Regions from separate parts of the Homo sapiens genome. Here region 2 is linked to region 1. Evidence: fine-mapped expression QTL. Tissue or cell type: subcutaneous fat. Region 1 holds a variant in brackets; the other region holds the start of a gene. All regions are shown on one strand. Distances are between the middles of the regions.

Region 1 (8,108 bases):
GTCATTTGTGATGTAGGTTGGTATGTCACTGGTCTAGGTTCAGTAGAAAATACATTACATGGACACAGCCAGTTTCCTAAGCATTCATACCTTAAGACCTACATGGATTGGTCTAGAATTTTAGGAAAATAGAATAAATTTCAATAAGCCAAAAAAGTGAATGAATTTTTTAAAAATGTGAAATGTCAGTGTGGAACATATGTAGTGTTTAAGACATTTTCTTTGGTTTTGGGGGCAGTGATTTTCTGATGTAAATGGAGGTTTTCTCTTAGCACTTCCAAACTATTGCATAAATCTTTTACTCAGTTATGTGATTTTAGAGCTCCGTTTTCAATCACCATTAACCAGAAAAACCTAAAGACTATTGTGTGCCTTTGGTAACACCCATAGTTTTCCTATCTAGATACAGAATTAGAGGTGCAGAAGAGCTGTGGGTTGCAGGTGGGAGAACCATGTTGGAGGAATTTGGTTTGGGGACTTGCTGAGACAAGTTGAAAATGGGGGGTTAGGATTTGGAGAAATATCCAAGCTAGAAATACAGATTTGGGAGTAATCAGTAGAAGTCCGTGACGTGATAGAAGTGGAACTACAGGTTACAAAGGTTGAGAGAGTGGAAGGTTTTCAATAAATTTAGCAGGGAAAGAAAGGAGAAGGGGAGATGTTGTGAGAATTTGAAAGGGAAATAAAGGTTTCTTTTTTTCTTTTTTTAACTTCATTTAGTTTTTCTTTTCCAAGAATAGAGATGTTAGCTCCTTAGAAGCAGGCCACAGGAAAGGGAGAAATTGAAAATATAAAAGAAGGTGGGATGAGAGATAGACATGATGAACTCAGAAGTCCAAATGGGATCATTAGCCTTAGAAATGACATAGAGTGTTTTTTACTTCCAAGGCAATAAAGAGGGCAGGAAAGATGGGTAATGAACCCAACACAATTGGGGTAGCTAGGAGGAAAGTAGGGAACTTAAGTGGGTAGAAGAAGGGGTTGTATATTCTCTAACTTGGAACCTTGGTGGCCTGTTGGACTCCAGAATAGCAGCAGAAGTCAGGTTGGCTATATGGGGATTCTGGCAGAGAGTCAGTGGTGAATACAAGTACTGATGGGGCACTGTACCCTAAGAATGAATATATAGCATAGACTTCAAATGACCTTCATCAGCTTGGCAGAACTTCATTCAACAGTGCTCATTGGCTGGATTCTTATCTTCAGAAGTGGCAGTCAGGCCCACCTGAGAGAAAAGGGGGTGCAGAGGAATGTGTACATGGTACACATGCTTTTCTTAATTTTAACGTTTAAATGGCTGTTTACCAAAATACCATTGAAAGTCCTTAGTCTGTATATTCTTGCTGAAACACCTTGCAGAGAAATGTTCTTGGCTTTATTTTTTTTTTTAATTAAAATTTGGGCAGCAAGCCTAGTTATTGAGTTAAACACCGTGTTTCACTGGAATTCTTTTCAACGTCTTTCAAGATTTTGGAGAAAGTCTCTTTTGAGAGTAATATTATGGTGATAGCTAGAGTCGAAGTGTTAGGTAACTTTCTCTTAGTGGAATATAATGTAAGGGCTTGTAAATTTAAATAGTTTAGTGCTGAGCACACAATGGACATTCATTACAAGTTTGAAACTGACAGAACAGTCTGAAAGAATCACACTTAAATTTTTATTTAAAAACTTATTATAGAAAACTGAGGGCATATAAAAAACTATAGACCACTCATGATCCTTTTCCCCAAAGGTAACAACTATCAACATTTTGATGTTTCTTTTAATGTGTCTATGTACAGATATAATTTTTAAACATCAGGATCAGTTTGTGACCTGCATATTTGCTCCTATATTGTTGGGTGTTTTCCTTTTGAATAATCTGAAAATATGATTTTTAGTGATTATAAAAATACCATTCAGATATATCATTTAATCCTCATATTTTAGGGGCATTTATTTTCCCTTTTGGACTATTACAAATAGTATTGTTTGGACATATTTGTACACACATCTTTTTTCCAAATTTCTGTTTGGGGAAGGGAACACAATCCTAGAAGGGGAATTACTGATTCCAAATGAATGAACCTTTTTAAACGTCTAGATGTACATAGTACTGCCAAATTGCTTTTAAGAAAGATTATGTCAACTTAGACTGTCACTGGCAATGGATGAAAGTACTTCCTACTTTGTTTTTATCTATATTGCCTTAAAATTATGATTTTAAAAATTTGCAAATTAGAAGATATAAAAATTTTGCCAGGTGCATTGGTTCACACCTGTAATCCCAGCGCTTTGGAAGACCAAGGTGGGAGGATTGCTTGAGCCCAGGCATTTGAAACCAGCCCGGACAACGTGATGAAACCCTTTCTCTTCCAAAAAAAAAAAAAAAAAAGAAATGTGAAAATTAGCCAGGCGTGGTGGTATGTGCCTGTAGTCCCAGCTGCTGGGAAGGCTGAGGTGAGAGGATGAATCAAGCCCAGGAGGTCAAGCCTGCAGTGAGCCATGGTCGCACCACTGCACTCCAGCCTTGGTTGACAGAGCAAGACCCTGACTCAAAAAAAAAAAAGGAAGATATAAAAAATGTTACAATCTTTACTAGTAAAAAATACTGTTATTCTATTTTATGAATGATTTGTTCAATTATGAGCCCGGTTTACTTGCTGCTGATAATTAAAAACAAAAGACAAAGACTTCTAAGAACATTCAGAACCTTGTGATGATTACAAATCTGAGAAACACATTGACTTTGCCCAAAGGTAAGAGCACAAAATGAAGCAAATTCCTGACTCCTTTGGCAGTGATCTAATGGTTAGATTACTAAATATGGCATCTTTTTTTTTTTTTTAAGGAATGTCACTATTACTCATGGAGAGAAACACATTTCTACAGAATTTTTACAAACTAAAAAGAAATTCTAATTAAAAACAATTATCTAACAGTTTTTCCTAGCACCGAACATAGTACTTGGTACATAGAAGATACTGACTAAATGTTTGTTGAATGAGTGAATGAATAAAGGGAAAAAAATCACATGTAATTTGAAGACACAAGAGAAAAATAGTTTGCTCAGGACATAATGTAGATAAGGCTTACTGTGTCCAGAATGTATTTTTGTTTTGTTTTGAGATAAGGCCTTGCTGTGTTGCTCAGATTAGAGTACAGTGGCAGGATCAGCTTGCTATAACCACAGACTCCTGGGCTCCAGGGATCCTCCTGCTTCAGCCTCCCGAGAGTAGCTGGGAATACAGACATGCACCACCTTGCTCAGCACATTTTTTAACTTTTTGTAGAGATACTGTCTTGCTTTGTTACCCAGACTGGTCTCAAACCAGGGTATGATTCCTCTTCATAACTTTTATTGCAAGACCTGGGATAATTTGGTTAATTAAAAATTTTTCTAAAATGAGGATACTGTTCACCTAGCGAGCATGTGATGAAAGTAATATTACAAGATATTCTAGGATTCTTAGATGAATTTTATTTTTTTTACTATCTATAAAAATTTATTGACATCTACTTTCTATTTACTGAATTATAATAGTGTGTGTGTGTTTCAGTGTTTTAAAATGGTCTACCTTCAAAAGAAAAGGTACCATAAAGTTTTTCAGGTTGTCCAAATTTTGTATGTAAATCAAGAACTTCTAAAAGATTAGCCATACAAAATGGAGGAAGTTAAAAAAAATGAAGTGCGTAATTTAAGAAACAG[T/A]AGATTTAATGAAGGATGAGACACGACCTAATAATAGGTAAATAACAGACTTTTCATAAGGAAGTCATTACTTCAGGAGCTTGTTAGTACTGGAAATACTAAATAATTATCTTAAGGATTAATTCTCTATGCTACTGGCAAAGCAATGAAGATTATCTTATTAATAGTATAAAACTAGTGGAAATTTACAAAGGAAAACAGATTGATAGATTTCAAGACCAAAAAAAGATCCAACCAAAAAACCCTGCAATAAATACTGTAGACAAAATGTTAATATCCTTAATACATAAAGAACTCTTACAAAATTAGTAATGAAAATATTAGCACATAGGAAAACACCATAGCGAAATAGCTAATGAATATTTAAAAATTTGATCTTGCTGGTAATTAAATAAATAAAACTTGATATAAAAATGTTTCTGTGCTGGTGCAGTGGCTCATGCCTGTAATTCCAGTGGTTTGGGAGGCTGGGGCGGACAGATGGCTTGAGCTCAGGAGTTTGAGACGAGCCTGGGCAACATGGCAAAACCCCATCTCTACAAAAAATACAATAATTAAGTGGGCATGTTGCACCTGTGGTCCCAGCTACTTGGGAGGCTGACATGGGAGAATCGCTCGAGCCTGGGAGTTGGAGGCTGACATGGGAGAATCGCTTGAGCCTGGGAGTTTGAGGCTGCAGTGAGCTGTGTTTGTGCCACTGTACTCCAGCCTCAATGAGAGAAGTGAGTCCCTGTCTCAAAAAAGCAAGAAGTTTCTGTCCTATAAGATAGGTAAAAAAATTTTTAGCAATTTTAGTGCTGTTAAGATTGTGATGAAATGAGCACTTTTATATACTGCCCTGGGGAGTATAAATTGATGCTGCCTTTCAGAAAGGTGTTGACTAAATTGATCCTTAGAAATGTTCATATTCTTTGACTCAGTACTTACCTTTCAAGCAACTGTATCCTGAGATAATATATTTTGATAAATAATTATAAACAATGCTCATCTCAGTATTATTTCTAATATTAAAAAATTAGAAACAGCTTATGTATCATTGGGGAATAAAGTTAAATAAATTATGATACATTTAGCCAATGGAATATTATATAGGCATTAAAATGTTTTCAAGTAATATACTTAGGAAAATGTTTAGCATATTAATGTTAAGTGAAAAAAGCAATATACTAAAATATATATACACAGAATGGTTGCTGATTCTGTAAAAAATATGTATGCACATAAAAATAAACTACCAAAATATTATAGATTAGTTATTGCTGGATAATGGAATTATTGATCATTTTATTATTCATTCCTTTCTTTCCAACATCTTTGCAATGAGCCTGTACAGCATTAATATGAAAAAGTTACTTAAATATAACAAATACTTCTTGAACATCTACCTGTGTAGATGCTTGTTAGTGCTTTTCTCTGCCCTGCAATGGCCCCACTCTTCCTTTAACAATAATAATAGCTGTCATATATTGGGCACTTTTTATGTGTGCTACAAGTGCTGTGTATGCATTCTCATGTGATCATCACGATACCTCCATTGGGACACAGACTTGGAGAGAGTGTTATTTGCTTAAAATCAATTAGCTAGGAAGTGACAGAGCAAGAATTTGAACTGTCTGATTCCAGAGCTTACTCATAACCACTATGCTGTATGCTTTGTTTATGGATGAAGATTTTACTTTAGTCCTAATTTAAATACTACTTTCTTTTAAAATAGTGTACTACAAAAATTTTCAGACAGCTACAAAGGTAGAGAGAAAAGTGTAATGGACCCCATGTTCCTGTCACCCAGCTTCAACATTTATTCATATACGGCATCATGCTTCATCTGTACCTCTATCCACTCCCCAACCCCTGCCTTATTTTGAGGCAAATCCTAGACATGTATCATTCATAAATATTTTAGTATATTTCCTTAAAAGGTAGGGGCTCTTTTAAAAATACAAAAAACCTCACATTCCTTATAAATGTTATAAATATGTCCTGTTAATTATATCTTAAAATTGTATGGATTCTGTAGTTCTCTTGATTTCTTTCGTGTTGTGTTTTTGAAGGTGGAACCTAACTTCTTGTGGAACAAGTGTTGCCAGCTCAGAAGGCAGTGAGGAGCTGTTTTCATCTGTGTCTGTTGGAGATCAAGATGATTGCTATTCCCTGTTAGATGATCAGGACTTCACTTCTTTTGATTTATTTCCTGAGGGGAGTGTCTGCAGTGATGTCTCTTCTTCTATTAGCACTTACTGGGATTGGTCAGATAGCGAGTTTGAATGGCAGGTAAGTTTTTTTGTCCTTTTCTTGACATTGTTACTACCGAAGTAGAAGTATAAACTTTTCTTTTGATATTTTCATCTCTACTTCAAAGTAAATTTCTCTAATGTTTATCCAGTCCTGGAGATTCTCTGACATGTTTTAAGGTTAAGAATTGGATGGGATATCTTTATTTTTGCTAATGTACCTTTTTGATGCTATAGATATCCTTTTGTAGATTTTTATGTTATTTAATACTTGCGTAATATTACCATTATTATATATTATCGGTACCTTTCTGTGCATGAATCCAAGCAAAGTTACACTTCCTACCCTATAATAAATAGCTTTTGTGTCCTTATAGGACAAATATCAGTCACATTATGTACCTAATATCATAAACTGTTATTACCATAAATACATGATTTTTGGTTCTGTCATCAGAAATATATAATTTCTCATTTTGTATTCTGTTTGTATGTAGACATGTTTTTCGCCTGACACTTTTTTCTTGTGGCATATATACCATGTAAAATGGCTTTGTGGTAAATTGTTTGAAAATCCTGCCTTATAATAAGTGCAGTTTGTCAGAAAATTTAGATTGTGTTATTACAACATTCATATTCTGATTGTAAAAACAATAAAACATTTAAAGACGTTTTCCCTGCCTACAGCAAAGATTTTATTCGCTAGATAAACTCGAATGTCTGCTACATTTGAAAGCCATCTGAATACTTGAAGTTTTATTCCAAAAGAGGGATTGAATATTATAATTTCAAACAGCTTTCAAATAATACAGAATGGCATCAAATTTAAAAAAGTCTCCAAGTCCCACTCTACTATGGTTACCACTGTTAGGAGCTTATGCAGATATAAGTATGTTTGCATACTGTTAAAAACATATGGGATTATACTTCATCCACTGTTTGGCCCTATGCTTTTTTTCAGCTAACACATCTCATTCTTTTCCATAACTGGATCATAATTTACTTAATCCATTTCCTAATTATGGCTATTTCGGTTGGTTTCAGTTTTTTGTTGTTATAAACAATGCTACACTGAAAAGATGAGATTTTTTTTTAAGAAAAAAAGTAATTCACAACCCTTCCATTTTTGTTTTTCATATTATTTGGATTAAAACATTTTTAAACTTTTTAAAAATTTGAGATGAAATTCACCATTTTCATCATTTTGAAATGTATAATTCAGTAGTTATTAATATACTCACAGTTGTTCAGCCATCACCGCTAATTCCAGGGCATTTCTGTCAACCCCAAAAGAAATCCTATACCCATTAGCACATAGTCCCAATTCTCCCCTCCCCCTTATCACCTGGCAGCTACTAATCTAATTTCTCTATGGATTTGCTTTTGTGGATATTTCATATCAATGGATGAATATATGGCCTTTTGTGTCTGGCTTCTTTCACTTGGAATAATGTTTTCAAGGTTCATCCATGTTGTACCATATAACAGTACTTCATTCCTTTCTATGGCTAATATTCCATTGTGTAGATGTACAGTACCACATTTTGTTCATCCACTCATTACCTGATGAACTTTTGGGTTGTTTCTACTTTTTGGCTGTTATAAATAATACTGCTGTGAACATTCAGGTTCAAGTTTCTATGTGGATTTATATTTTTAATTCTCTTGAATATACCCCAAAGAGTGGAATTGCTGGATCATATGATCACTTGCTATTTAACTTTTTGAGGAACTGCCAACATGTTTTCCAGAGTGACTGCACCATTTTACTTTTCCACCAGCAGCGTATGAAAGTTCCCATTTCACCACATCCTTGTCCACACTTGGCGTTGTCTTTCTGTTTGTAGCCATCCTACTGGGTATAAATTGGTATTTCATTATGGTTTTGAGCATCTTTTCATGTGCTTATTGGCCATTTGTGTGTCCTCTTTGGGGAAATATCTATTCAGATACCTTGCTGCTTTTAAAATTGTGTTATTTTACTTTTTATGGTTGCGTTGTAAGAGTTCTTTCTATATTCTGGCTACTAGACCCTTATCAGATATATGATTTGCAAAAATGTTTTTATTCTGCAGGTTGTCTTTTTGCTTGTTAGCATTTGTTCACTTGATAGTGTCCTTTGACACCAAAGTTTTTAATTTTGATGAAGTCTAATTTATCTTTTTTTTGGCTGTACTTATGATGTCATA
Region 2 (8,108 bases), 250 kb before region 1:
GAGACTCCGTCTCAAAAAAAAAAAAAGCATACAAATTTATTTAACATATATACACTGCAGCCTTCGGAGCAAAGGCAGAAAGGTACAGGGTAAATTGTCTATTTATATGCTCAGGTTCAACAAAGTATGGACAGCCCTGTAGAAATATGATGGGACAAAAAGGCTAAGACCTAATGCTAATCCAGCAGGGCTTGTTTGTCTAGACTGTGCTTGGCTTCTGTGAACACAGATTTCTTCCTCCTGGGTATGGGGCAGGACCCTCTCTGTAATGGGGTCTTGTGACCTGCAGTCAAACAAGGTCAGATCATTTCTTTATGACCAGTTTTACACAAAAAAGGTGGAGGAAAAATTAGAAAAGTATTTTTAGGCTTTGTGACTATCTTTAGAAAAAAAGGCTTCTGGTTTCTAGGACCCACCTTGGGGAAGAGGGATTCTGGTCTGTACAGTTAGCTCCCTGGGAAGAATGGGGCTGACAGACAGGAGGACCCAGGACCTCAGAGAACATCTTTTACATCCGAGACTACTTCTGGGGCCTTTATTTTGGGGTATCATGCTCTGAGCCCCAACAATAGAAGTCAGCTGCATGTGCAAGTTCATCACTTACAATTTTTACTTTCCTCAAAAACACTAAGAAAACAATACAGACCAAACCTTTGCCACTGTAAAACTAGGATTGCCTTTCCTCAAGCTTCCAGTAACATCTTCCTAGTTTCGGTCTCATAACTCACCACAAGCACCTTTAACACTCATAGCTCTAGCAACATATCGGTGATCATGATATATGTATTCTCTAAGTCAGAGATCCTTTGTCTGCAGCAAATAATTCTTTTCTTAACCCTCACTTGAATTGCATTTGGTGTCCATATTTCCCCCAGCCATCTCCTAAAGGCCCTCTAGGCTTCTTGTGCCATGCATGTCAAAATGCTTCCAGTCTCTATCCATTATCTAGTTCCAAAGCTGCTTCCACTCTTTCAGGTGTTAGCTATCAGATCTGTCTGGCAACAGAATCCCTATTGGTTTGCTCTGTTAGCCTGACAATGTACCACAGACCTGGGTGGCCTAAACAGCAGACATTAATTGTTCACAGTTCTGGAGGTTGGAAGTCCAAATCAAAGCGTCAGCTGGGTTGTTTCCTTCTGAGTAATAAGAGGGAAGGATCTCTTCCAGGGATTTTTCCTCAGCTTGTAGATGGCCCACTTCTCTGTATGCTACTTCACATTTTCTTCCCTGTACACATGTCTCTTTGTCTGAATTTCCCCTTTTGATAGGCACAATGCACGCTAGCCATTTCGAGTTAGAGCCCACCCTAATGAATGTAATTTAACTTCAGTATCCCACTAAAAAACCCATCTTCAAGTAGGAGAGAGACGAGGGGTCAGGAGTCCAATAGATGTATTTGGTGTTTTTTTTTGGGGGGGGGGACACAACTGAACCCATAGGACATAGGAATCCTGAGTTGTAGGTGGGAATACCTCCTGCCTCTTCCATTATGTTAAGAGAACACTGGTAACTGATGAAGGGAAAGAAGGTGACTCCTACCCATCTTTTTTCAAGACTACTTGAATGTTGAGTAATTTTATACACACACACACGCACACACACACACATTTATATATATATATATATATATATATATATATATATATAAAATCTGGTTTATTCCATTAAATTCTCTAGGTATAATGAGAGTGAAAAAGCTAAGGAACATTGTTAGAGATATAATGTTGATCTGACTAATCCTTATAAAGGGAAACCTAGGAATATAAGAGACAGAAATGACCATGTAGTAAAGGGATTAAATGGAAAATTATTAAATGAAAATTATTACTGTCCTTGAAGCAAGTTGCGCTATAGATATATTAGAGTTGACAATGTTTAGTTCTCGGAAAAAGAATGCATGAAAAATCTTCAGGACGCCACAGGCCACCTGCCCCTCCCCTTTACTACCTCCCCCCGCAAGAGGTAATAAGAACCCATTAATCTCATGACCTCAGGTCTCAATCACACACCCCTTTGTCAAAGTTTACCCCCGTTATTTCTCAGATTCTTACATGAGCTCGGAAACTAGCGTTCCCCTGTATTTTACTTGCAGCCTCTCAACAGGTGCCTGCCTTGAGAAAATTAGCCTCTGGGGTAGAGTCGACTTTTGTCCACTGGGGGTCGCAGATCCCAGTCCTCAGGGCCTCAAGACTGTGCCGCGAAGGAAGGAAAGGAAGGGTTGGGAGCAGCCTCTTCTGAAAACCTGATACCTCCCCTCCACCGCCTCCTCTGTCGCCAGGCGGAAAATTCCCTCTCCCATCTTCTGAACACAAGCCAAAGTGCCTCCTGCACTCCCGCCCCCCGTACATTTCCTGCGGGAAACCGTCGGCCTACCAGCTCTGCAATCAGCCGCACAGAATTCAAATTCGGATTCGGCTTTGATGACCTGCCGGAGAGAAAGGGACTAGAAGTTGGATGACCTCCCACCCCCATATTCCTTCCCAGGAAGAGATGAGGAGATGCAAAAGGGGTTCAAGACAGCTTGCGATCGTCTTCTCCCGCCCCTTGCCACCTCCCCGAACACCCGCCCCCGACGCCCGACAACACCCCCGCCCACTTCAATCCAGGCAAATCATAAATCCTACCCAGTCGGCAGCATCCAGATGAGCCACAACTCCTTTCTCAGCGCAACCAGGCCATGGGAGTGCTCCATCCCCTGCCTCGCAGTTACTGATTCTCCAAGCCGGGCGCCGCCCAGTCCTGGTGGGGCTTCCCCCACCCCTCTCCGCGCCGGGAAATCGCGCGCTCTTTCTTTACCTGCGCTCCACTGGTGGGCAGCGTATGCTCCCGCGTCGACAGCTCTGTTTCGCCTTCCGGTCCCCATAGCTCTGCAGGGGAACAGGATCGCTGGCGCCTCCTGGGCCGCTAAGCGACCCCGGGGCTGCCCGGCTTAGCGAGTGCTTCGCAGAGAGGTAGCCGAGTCGAGGCAGCGCGGTTCCCAAGGAAGTCACGGCTGCGGCCACCCTCCAGTTCGGACCTCCGGGCAGCCGCGGTTGCTTTCAGTCTCTGCCCATTGAGACAAAAGAGCGTGACAAGCCGCGCGACGCGGCCAATCAGCGGGGCGAGGAGGCGGCCTACCCAAGCAGCCTCTGGCCCTGAAGCTACTGCTAGCAAGACTCGGGAGCTGGCTGGCGGGGGCTGAGGCCGACAGGCACGGGAGCCGGCGCGGCGTCAAGTGGAGCTCGGACGCACGGACCAGGCCCATTTCCCTTTCATCTGTGAGTTTGCTGCTACCCCGTCGCTTCCCTTCTCCCCATCCCCTTCCGCCTCGGCTCTGCTCCGGGCTTTGAGACCGGATGCCTGAAACACGAGGTGGGACAGAAACCAAGTGAACAATGAGAGTTCCTTACCTTTGTATAGGGGGAAGGGGGGAAACAGCATTTACTGAGTGCTTTCTGTGTGCGGATGCGCCTGTCTCCTTTCTTCTCAGCAGCCCTGTGAAGGAGGTAGCAGTGTGCCCACTTAACAGGAAAGGACTGAAACACCCAGGCGGTACAGTTAGGAAGTGCAGAGCTAAGAGCTCACTCCCAAGTCAACATATCTGACTTCAAAGGCTACCCCTTGCCAACACTCCTCTATTCTGTTAGATTAAGGGATAGCGGAGAAAAACCAAAGCCAGGATGGGAGGACCAACTTGGGACTGCATAGAATTAGTGAGCAAGAACTGTTATCTCCATTTCACAGATGAAGAAACTGAGCCAAAGACAGAGAGGTTAAGCGTCTTGCACTGTATCCCGCAGCAAAGAAGTTACAGCATCCAACTTAGCACCTGTATGTTGCTCTCTAGATGCTAATTGTTTGCCCTGCAGCATTGTCTGAAGAGCACTTTTGCACAGGTAGTCTCAAACCATCTCAACAGCAGTCTCAATGTGATGATAGTGCTGAGGGAGGGGGTGAGGAGGTAGTAGGGAGAGGGCTGAGGGAAGATGAAGGCAACCTTTATGGTGCCCATTGTACAGAAGAGGAAACTCTTCTTGGCACTCTTCTTTCCTTCGTTTTTTTAAAAATACTTTTTTTTATACTACAAAAAGCTGCCCTTTTTATAAAAGCAACATAATTTCGACAGCCCTTTGTGACGCCAAGGGAGGCAAGGCTCAGAGAGGTAAAATGATTTGTCTGAAATTACAAGGTGAAGCCAAAATTTGGACCGAATCTCTGAATCCAGAACTCATACTATTAACTAAAGTGAGTAAAAAGTGGGCTGCCTCAGAATCATTTTGGAGAGCTTGTTATAAATGCAGATTCCTGGGCCTTACCCCTGGGGGATTTTGATGTACTAGGACTACAGGTAAAGAGTGTGATTTGTAGTTTTAAACAGCCCCATAGTTGATTCTGAGGTGTAGAGAGATTCGTGAACCACTGTTCTAAACACCACCACGTGATGCTGAAGGTTATAAGTAAATGGGCCTGTCATCAGTGTATTTGTCCATGGCATATCTGTTATGAAATGTAACTCCAGAGCACAGGTTCCTACCCGCGGTCCTTCCTGGAACTGTATGCAAAGAATCTGGACTCCGTACATTCTTCTGAGTCCACAGCTTTGCAGATTTTCAAATGGGTCTGTCATAATGTCTTCCTTCTTCAAGCCATGCTTGATGAAGAAGTGTGAGAAATCAAACCCCATTTAACCTAACCCCCAAACCACAGCTCTCTGTTGCTGATATGGCTCTTTCATTTCCTGGCTCAAGGACAGGTTGCTAGGTTGCCCTTCTGTGAGCTCTTCAGGGGACTTCTCCTTTGCTGGATTTGGCATCACTGGCCCCAGAGAAGGAGCAACTCCATGGAAACAGCATGCAGGGCTGTCCAAAGTGAATGGCCATGAAGGCAGTGGCTGGAAAACCTGCTCCATTTTTCCCTGACTTAGAGAGCAGGTATTACTTCCTTTATGTATAGTGTGGCTAGGAGGCTCCTGTGGGGCCTGTTCTTGACTCCTGATGCTTGGAAGCAAGTGAACAGTCTGAAGCCCTTCCACTGCCGTTGGCTTCATCTTCAGCCTGCCAAGGCACTTCACTCACTCATTTCCACCCTCTTATTTACAACCCCAAGATGTAGAGTTCCTTGGAGTAAACAATACAGATTTGGAGATGAAGCACTTTCCATCTCAGGATTGTGGCCTGTGGATGGAACAGTGGGGTAGTGGTGGTGGAAGGTGGAAAGTGTGGATGTATGGAGAAGGCAGGTTGCTCACCTCGCACACTTAGGGGTGATGGTGGCAGTAGCTCTTAGGTTTCCTTCAGACTTTTGCTTCTGCTCCCCTGTCCCGTGACATCTGACTCTTGCCTCCCAGAAGACTCTTGTTCAGTGTTTAAATTGGCTTTATCACCAAATTAGGTATTTGCAGCTGGACTTGGTAGGGATGGAATCACATAAGACCAAGAATAGGTGTCAGAGCTCGGACAAAAATAATGACAGGAAATGGATTGTGTAAAGGTGCCAGAGTTGGACTACTGGAACAAAGCGAGAGACATTTTGTGCAGGGATGGGGGGAGTATTTGCAACCTGGCTCCAATTGGATACAGGACATCCTATCTCTGGCCTCATGTGTGTGAGTCTGTTCCAACTGATGGCTCTAATGAGACCACATTTTGTAATTTTAACACATAAACCTTAGAAGCTTGAAGGTTTAGAGATAAAGCTTTCAGCTGAAACAATAATAGCTGCCTTTGGCTGCCTTCCTCCTTTGTACCAGGAACTTTCTATCTGTTATCTCATTTAAGCTTCCCAGCAACACTGTTGAGACAGCCATTGTATCCCATTTTGCAGAGAGGGAAACTGAATTTCAGGGATGTTAAGTAACTTGTGTAAGGCTTCACAACTTTTAAGTGCAGGCACTGGGATTGCAGGCCAGGGATGTCAAACTCCAAAGCCCATGAAAACTCTTCTTTGCTGCCTTCCAAACAAGCAGTCTAAAAGGCATTCTGCAGATAACCCAGTTCATTAGACCGATTGCAGCTTTTAGAACAATTTAGTTGTTATCTTGCCTTTATTCCTATTATCTCTCTCTCTCTCTCTTTTTTTTTTTTTTGAGACGGAGTCTCCCACTGTCACCCAGGCTGGGGTGCAGTGGTGCGATCTCAGCTCACTGCAAGCTCTGCCCTATTATCTCATTTTTATTTAATTTATTTATTTATTTATTTTTTATTAGTGCTATACTTTAAGTTCTAGGGTACATATGCACAACGTGCAGGTTTGTTACATATGTATACATGTACCATGTTGGTGTGCTGCACCCATTAACTCGTCATTTACATTAGGTATATCTCCTAATGCTAACCCTCCCCCCTCCCCCACCCCACGACAGGCCCCAGTGTGTGATGTTCCCCATCCTGTGTCCAAGTGTTCTCATTGTTCAATTCCCACCTATGAGTGAGAACATGCAGTGTTTTGTTTTCTGTCCTTGCGACAGTTTGCTCAGAATGATGGTTTCCAGCTTCATCCATGTCCCTACAAAGGACATGAACTCGTCCTTTTTTATGGCTTCATACTATTCCATGGTGTATATGTGCCACATTTTCTTAATCCAGTCTATTATTGACGGACATTTGGGTTGGTTCCAAGTCTTTGCTATCGTGAATAGTGCTGCAATAAACATGCATGTGCATGTGTCTTTATAGCAGCATGATTTATAATCCTTTGGGTATATACCCAGTAATGGGATGGCTGGGTCAAATGGTATTTCTAGTTCTAGATCCCTGAGGAATCGCCACACTGTCTTCCACAATGGTTGAACTAGTTCACAGTCCCACCAACAGTGTAAAAGTGTTCCTGTTTCTCCACATCCTCTCCAGCACCTGTTGTTTCCTGACTTGTTAATGATCACCATTCTAACTGGTGTGAGATGCTATCTCATTGTGGTTTTGATTTGCATTTTTCTGATGGCCAGTGATGATGAGCATTTTTTCATGTGTCTGTTGGCTGCATAAATGTCTTCTTTTGAGAAGTGTCCATATCCTTCACCCACTTTTTGATGGGGTTGTTTGATTTTTTCTTGTACATTTGTTTAGGTTCTTTGTAGATTCTGGATATTAGCCCTTTGTCAGATGGGTAGATTGCAAAAATTTTCTCCCATTCTGTAGGTTGCCTATTCACTCTGATGGTAGTTTCTTTTGCTGTGCAGAAGCTCTTTAGTTTAATTAGATCCCATTTGTCAATGGATCATTTGTTGCCATTGCCTTTGGTGTTTTAGACATGAAGTCCTTGCCCATGCCTATGTCCTGAATGGCATTGCCTAGGTTTTCTTCTAGGGTTTTTATGGTTTTAGGTCTAAAATTTAAGTCTTTAATCCATCTTGAATTAATTTTTGTATAAGGTGTAAGGAAGGGATCCAGTTTCAGCTTTCCTCATATGGCTAGCCAGTTTTCCGAGCACCATTTATTAAATAGGGAATCCTTTCCCCATTTCTTGTTTTTGTCAGGTTTGTCAAAGATCAGATGTTTGTAGATGTGTGGTATTATTTGTGAGGGCTGTGTTCTGTTCCATTGGTCTATATCTCTGTTTTGGTACCAGTACCATGCTGTTTTGGTTACTGTAGCCTTGTAGTATAGTTTGAAGTCAGGTAGCGTGATGCCTCCAGCTTTGTTCTTTTGGCTTAGGATTGTCTTGGCAATGCGGGCTCTTTTTTGGTTCCATATGAATTTTAAAGTAGTTTTTTCCAATTCTGTGAAGAAGGTCATTGGTAGCTTGATGGGGATGGCATTGAATCTATAAATTACCTTGGGCAGTATGGCCATTTTCAAGATATTGATTCTTCCTATCCATGAGCATGGAAGGTTCTTCCATTTCTTTGTATCCTCTTTTATTTCGTTGAGCAGTGCTTTGTAATTCTCCTTGAAGAGGTCCTTCACATCCCTTGTATGTTGGATTCCTAGTATTATCTGATTTTTAAAAATGAAATTACTAATATAACTTATGGAACAACTTATATACCAGTTGCTGTGCTAAGCACTTTCCATACTTTGTCTCATGCATCCTTCATGACAATCATTTTACATATATAGATACTGAGGATCAGAGAGATGCAGAAACTTGGCCAAGGTTATAAAGCTAGGAAGTGACAGAGTGAAATTCAA

Evidence for each region. PIP is the estimated chance that this variant, and not a neighbour inherited with it, causes the effect.
Region 2: it holds the start of TMSB15B-AS1, and the variant in region 1 is fine-mapped to the expression of TMSB15B-AS1 in subcutaneous fat (GTEx, PIP above 0.99). The same link has a PIP of 0.9 or more in visceral fat.

The regions. Positions count from the first base shown.
Region 1 is chrX:104,169,884-104,177,991 of GRCh38, forward strand. FAM199X (family with sequence similarity 199, X-linked) reads left to right here. Exons shown (of 6, transcript NM_207318.4): 2 at 5,740-5,959. Among named protein-coding and RNA genes, the nearest start is that of FAM199X, 7.5 kb to the left of the region's middle. The variant T/A (reference allele first, on the strand shown) is at 3,689.
Region 2 is chrX:103,916,036-103,924,143 of GRCh38, forward strand. It overlaps TMSB15B-AS1 (TMSB15B antisense RNA 1), which reads right to left and starts at 3,513. Exons shown (of 5, transcript NR_146557.1): 1 at 3,390-3,513; 2 at 2,797-3,045; 3 at 2,374-2,425; 4 at 2,052-2,190. It also overlaps a transcript of TMSB15B not described here. RefSeq lists an enhancer at 3,439-3,528.